Regions from separate parts of the Homo sapiens genome. Here region 1 is linked to region 2. Evidence: fine-mapped expression QTL. A gene starts in region 2. The other region holds a variant in brackets. All regions are shown on one strand. Distances are from middle to middle.

Region 1 (2,798 bases), 29 kb before region 2:
GCACCCACCTTGGCGTAGGCCTTGTACACCGTGGCGTACGTGCCGCTGCCCAGGCGCTCGGTGAGGATGAAGCCGTCCAGGCGCGGGGGACCCCAGCCGGGCCCCGCCATTCCGGCCGCCTGCGCCCGCGCGGGCGCTTCCTCGCTGCGGGCGGCGGTTCCGGCGGGTTGCGGGGCGGGCCGAGCACTGGGTGGCTCCACGCTGCCCCCAGCGCCGCCCGCCGGAAATGCAGCGCGCATCGGGGACGCGGATCCGCCCGGCTCCCGGCGCCCCTCCCCTGTCTCTGGGCCTCGCCGGGTCACGCGCCCCGCCAGTTCCTGCAGGGCCCACGTGGGGATACGGAGGCCCCGCGAGCCTAGAAGTTAACAACGGAGGACGGCCGGCGTGGTCTCCGGGGACTCCTAGCGGGCGCAGAGGCGTCTAGAGATCGCCCACGTGAGGGCGCGGGCGGCGGAGCGGGCGTGTGTGGGGGCGACGGCGTCCGGGAGGCTCCCAGGGCCCCTCCCCAGGACCCGCAGCTCTGAAAGGAGAGCTACTGGCACGAGAAGGCGCCTTTGGAAGAGGCCGCGTTGGCTTCCCAGGCCTCCCAGCTGCTTTTCACTTTTCTGAGGAAGGGCCTTGACCTATTTATTGCATCTTAACTGTCCCCGCTCTCCAATCTTAGCAGCGGCGCCCAGCCCCTAATCCTGTGGGCTGCCCCGTCCTCCCAAGTCCACCAGACATGTGGACCCGTGTTGTCTGAAAATGTTTTTATTTTTACTTAAGCACAAAAATTGAGACGTAACATATACATTTGTACATAGAGGGGAAAAAATACCAGAAAGGAGTTCATAAAACCCCAGCCGCTGCCAGTATCATTCAGTGGCTGGGGCCTGCGGCTGTCTCGGGCCCAGAGCCGGAGGCTAGTTTTGTGGGAAGGCACCCCAGTCCACACACCCACTCGGCAGCCTCGAGGGACAGGGTGCTGGTTTTAAGGGTGGACTCCTACGTGTCCCATCACAGTGACACACCCCCCAGGGTGTGAACCAGACTCCACTGGGTATTAGGGGGCCCTCCGAGAGATGGCTTATCAGTCCCTGCTGAGGGATGCGGTTCTGGACTGGCTGGCCCTGCCCTTCCTGAAAGTCTGGATGCTGCTGATGGGGAGCATGGGCGGGGCAGGTGGCATCTGAGGCAGAGACAAAGGCAGCCGTCCCTCGGTTCGGGGAGGGGGGGGGGTAGTCACAGCAAACAGGGCCAAACCAACCACACCAGGACAGGCAGACCCCACCCTCCTAGAAGACGCTGGACGCTAGGCAGGACAGCTTGGGGTCAGTGTCCTTGGTCCCTTCCAGTCCCCAAATCCCAACCAACGGCA[T/C]TGTACATTCAGAAAGTCTGAAGAGAGTAAGGCTCAGCAAGGGGAGGGCTCCAGAGGGCTCAAAGTGCCATCCCCTGCAGGAGGGTGCAGGGGGATAAAGGGCTATTAATCCGTTTCTCAGGAACACGAGGCAGGGAAGAGCTTAAGGCAACCAGCCTTCTCTGGATCCGTTTATGAGGCAGAGAAGAGCTTGAGGCAACCAGCCTTCTCTGGAAGCCTGGAGACCACTGGAGTGACCTGGGGAACAGATCTGTCCACCAGAACCTGTGAGAGGCTTATTCCCAGCCCAGGCAGGAAGGACTGGGCTGTGTCTAAGAAGCCAGATTCAGGCCAGGCCTGCAGGGTGGGGGAGTCAAGGCCCAGGACCCTGGCAGAAAGCTCCAGCTGGGATGGGCCCAGGTCAGCCTGTGATCCCAACTGTGTGGGGGTGTCTGTGTGTGCACAGGACGAAGAGAACTTCAGTCCCACTGCTTCCAGAGACAAAAGAATCCTACCAAACCATCACCAGAGAAGGAAAGAGAGCTTTGTTTTTTTTTGTACATAGAGGGGGAAAAAATTCCCTGTCCCTCCCGTTCCAGGGAGAGCTGGTCGCTGAGGGAGGAGGAAGAGCCACGGCAAGAACCCTGCCAGGTCTGTGCTGGGCACAACCACCACCACATAAGGCACCCACGGAAAGTGCAGCTCAGAAGGCAGGCGAGAGAAAGGCTGAGGGGGAGAGAAGAGAGGAGGACTAATTCCCCTGGAAGGCTCCTTGGGCAGCAGATGAAGCAGCTCTGTGGAAGGTTCTGCTGCTGAAGATGCCCTGGGAAAACTCCTCCTGGGCCTGCTGGAAGCTGGCCCCTGTCCGTCGGTAGAGGGAGTGCACCTGGCGAAGAGGGGTGGGGTGAGAGAAGCCTGTCCTTTGGGCCCACCAGGAAGCCAGCCATCCAGGTTATACTCCCAAAGGGGTCACCAGAAGCCTGGCACTGCCTGACCCCCCACCCAGATCCCTGGAGAAAGGTACTGGACCTTTGGGGGCCTAGGATGCCCAACTGCAGTGGTGAAAAACATCTCGTGGCAAGGGCAGGAAACGGTTGCCTGCCTCCTCCCATTTGCTGTCAGCCCTGCCCACACCACTCACCCGCTGCAGGAGGAAGACTGAGAGCACGGCACAGAGGGTGAAGAAGCCAGCCACCACCATCATGATGACTGATATGGCCAGGGAATGATTATCCAGTGTAGACAGGGCTGCAATCCAACCGCTATAAAGGGAAGAAGAGGCCAGAGGGAGCAAAGTGGGAGTGGGCTCCAAAAGTCAGCATAAGGGGCTCTTCTCCAAGTGGCTGCTGTGTCCTGACCATCACCTTGGCATCTCCCCACAGCACAGGGAGCCCTGTGAGCCAGAAGCCCTTGGCCTGTGAGGCCAGACCTCCGTGAAGGCTGACAGGCCCACACTACCCCA
Region 2 (2,798 bases):
CTGGGCAACAAGAGCAAAACTCTGTCTCAAAAAAAAGAGGCCAGGTGTGGTGGCTCACCCCTGTAATCCCAGCACTTTGGGAGGCTAAGGTGGGTGGATCACTTCAGGCCAGGAGTTTGAGACCAGTCTGGCCAATAAGGTGAAACCCCGTCTCTACTAAAAATACAAAAATTAGCCGGGTGTGGTGGTGCACACCTGTAATCCCAGTTTCTCGGGAGGCTGAAGCACGAGAATCACTTGAACCCAGGAGGCTGAGGCTGCAGTGAGCCGAGATCGCGCTACTGCACTCCAGCCTGGGCGACAGAGCAAGAATTGTCTCAAAAAACAAAACAAAACAAAACAAAAAAAAAGGAAAAGAAAGAAAGCAGGAAGATTGTTTCTTCCTTGATTGCTGTTCAAAAGGTCAGGCCAGGCGTGGTGGCTCACACCTGTAATCCCAGCACTTTGGAAGGCCGAGGCGGATGGATCACCTGAGGTCAGGAGTTTGAGACCAGCCTGGCCAACACGGTGAAACCCCGTCTCTACTAAAAGTATGAAAATTAGCTGGGTGTGGTGGCATACGCCTGTAGTCCCAGCTACTCAGGAGGCTGAAGCAGGAGAATTGCTTGAACTCGGGAGGCAGAGGTTGCAGTGAGCGGAAATCGTGCCAATGCACTCCAGCCTGGGCGACAAAGCGAGACTCCGTCTCAAAAAAAAAAAAAAAAGTCAGGCCAGCTCACACGTCAGTGCATCTCAACTATGTTGCCACCACACACAGTTCCATCAGACAAACGTTCCCTGTGGGTCCAGAATTTTTCACAGTCCCCCGCACCTCTCCTCTCTCCCTAACCCGGGCTCTCCTATCTGGTCAAAACCCACTCCAAACTAGACCCATGGCCAAAATGTGGAATTCTTATCAAGGCCATTTTTCAACTTGGGCTACCTTCCCGCCCTCTCCCATCTTTCTTTCCCTGACAAATCTCAGGGGCTCTCCTGTACTTTATACACTAGTTTGGCTGGTGGTGGAGCGGTGGCAGGTGTCCTGGGCTTTTCCCACATTTTTCCCCTCCACCAGAGGCTTCACCACCTCCTCATATGTTGCTGTCACCCCCTCTTCTAAAGTGACTCAAGACAGGTGTCTATCCAAGAATGAGGGAATGCGATAGCCACATTTCGCTTCTCCCTGACGCTAGGAGACTTCCGGAAGGGTCCGACCGTACCTGCTCCAGTCCCCTTCCCTAGCACAGCCCAGCCTCCGGGTGCTAGAAGACCCCACTGTCTCCAACACTTCAGCGCCCCGCCTCCTCTGCAGTTCCACCTGCTGCTAGTCGCGCCCCTCACGCGTTACGATAGGCCAGACCTCAAAGCCCGCTCTCCCATTGGGCAGATGACCCGTCCCTCCTACGCCACGTCTCCCGGCTCTAGCGAGAGGCCCGGGCGGCGGCCGTGGGCCCTAGGGAAATCTGAGAGCTGGATGGCGGGAGAGGGGCTCTACCTGGAAGGGGTTTACATCCACTGGGTCCGCGAAGGGGTTGGTGTCGAAAGCCGACATGGTGATCGGGGGCCAGCGGGCGAACTCCGCGAACGCTGCTGCCTCCGGGCACCCAGACCCAGCGGCGCTTCGTGTAGACCCTCCACTTCCGGGAGCGAGGCAGCGGTTCTGGCGCAGGCGCGATGCCCTCCCCCGAGGGCGTGGCCCTATGACGGCACCGGGGTCGCTCCGCCCCCCCCCCCCCCCCCCCCGCCCAGCCCACAATAGTGCGGTGGGTGGGCATTCGGCTTCCGTCCACATCTTCGCTCTGCTGGGGATTCAGGGGTCTTGGCTGCGCGGAGCGTCTACGGAGCCAGAGGCGTGGCCGGAGTCCTTCCCAACTGCCTATCAATCTGACACCTTCCAATTTTATGTTTCTAAAGCAAACTCTCAAAAGTGGGACAGGAAACAGCCCCTTCACTTCTCTGTAGACCAAGTTTGGGAAGAAGTCCAAACTGATCCCTGGGCAAAGGACAGGGGTGACAGGTGAGGCCAGAGGCCTTGGGAGAACTAGGAAAGCGCTTCTTCTGCAGAACGTGCTCGGGGAAAGAGAAGTGCCAGGACCATCCAGCAGTCCTCCACCCGAGCTGAGCCTGCTTCTTCTAGGGCTGCTCGCCCTCTGATGTCGTTTCATCGTTTTAGGGACGAGGGTTCCTGGGCCCATCAGCTTTGGGACCTGAGTTGGGACTTGAACCTGGACATCAAACATTTATGAAGTGACTCACGGAATTCAGCAACACAGCCTCAATCATGGGGGAGGTGGCTGCTTCACTCTCCACAGCTCCGCTTTCCCCCGCCCCCGCCCCCCACAGGGTCTCACTGTCGCCCAGGCTGGAGTGCAGTGGTGCAATCATGGCTCACTGCAGCCTCGAGCTCCTGGGCTCAAGCAATCCTCCCACCTCAGCCTCCTGAGTAGCTGGGACTACAGCTGGTCACCACCATACCCAGCTAATTTATGGATTTTTTGTAGAGATGGGGATCTCACTATATTGCCCAGGCTCGTCTCAAACACCTGGGCTGAAGTGATCCTCCCGCCTTGGCTTCCTAAAATGCTAGGATTATACTCATGAACCACTGTCTGGCCAAATCCACCTTATTTATTTGGATCTGTCTGGTATTATTCATCTCTGCTGTCACCGAATCCCAGCCACTGTCATTTTTACCCTGAACTAATACAGTGCTGTTAATTGGTCTATTGTTCTTCATGTTGTAATCAAAGATATGTTTAAAGGGGGCAAAATTATCACAGAACTTTGTTAAAATTTTTCAATTAATTTCCATAAAGGGC

The links. PIP is the estimated chance that this variant, and not a neighbour inherited with it, causes the effect.
Region 1: its variant is fine-mapped to the expression of SCAMP2 in blood mononuclear cells (TOPMed, PIP above 0.99).

The regions. Positions count from the first base shown.
Region 1 is chr15:74,842,996-74,845,793 of GRCh38, forward strand. It overlaps SCAMP2 (secretory carrier membrane protein 2), which reads right to left. Exons shown (of 9, transcript NM_005697.5): 8 at 2,478-2,598; 9 at 735-2,222. The coding sequence ends at 2,088. ULK3 (unc-51 like kinase 3) reads right to left here and starts at 161. Exons shown (of 16, transcript NM_001099436.4): 1 at 9-161. The coding sequence starts at 110. RefSeq lists an enhancer at 1-660 and a silencer at 1-642. The variant T/C (reference allele first, on the strand shown) is at 1,358.
Region 2 is chr15:74,871,725-74,874,522 of GRCh38, forward strand. It overlaps SCAMP2 (secretory carrier membrane protein 2), which reads right to left and starts at 1,641. Exons shown (of 9, transcript NM_005697.5): 1 at 1,475-1,641. The coding sequence starts at 1,531.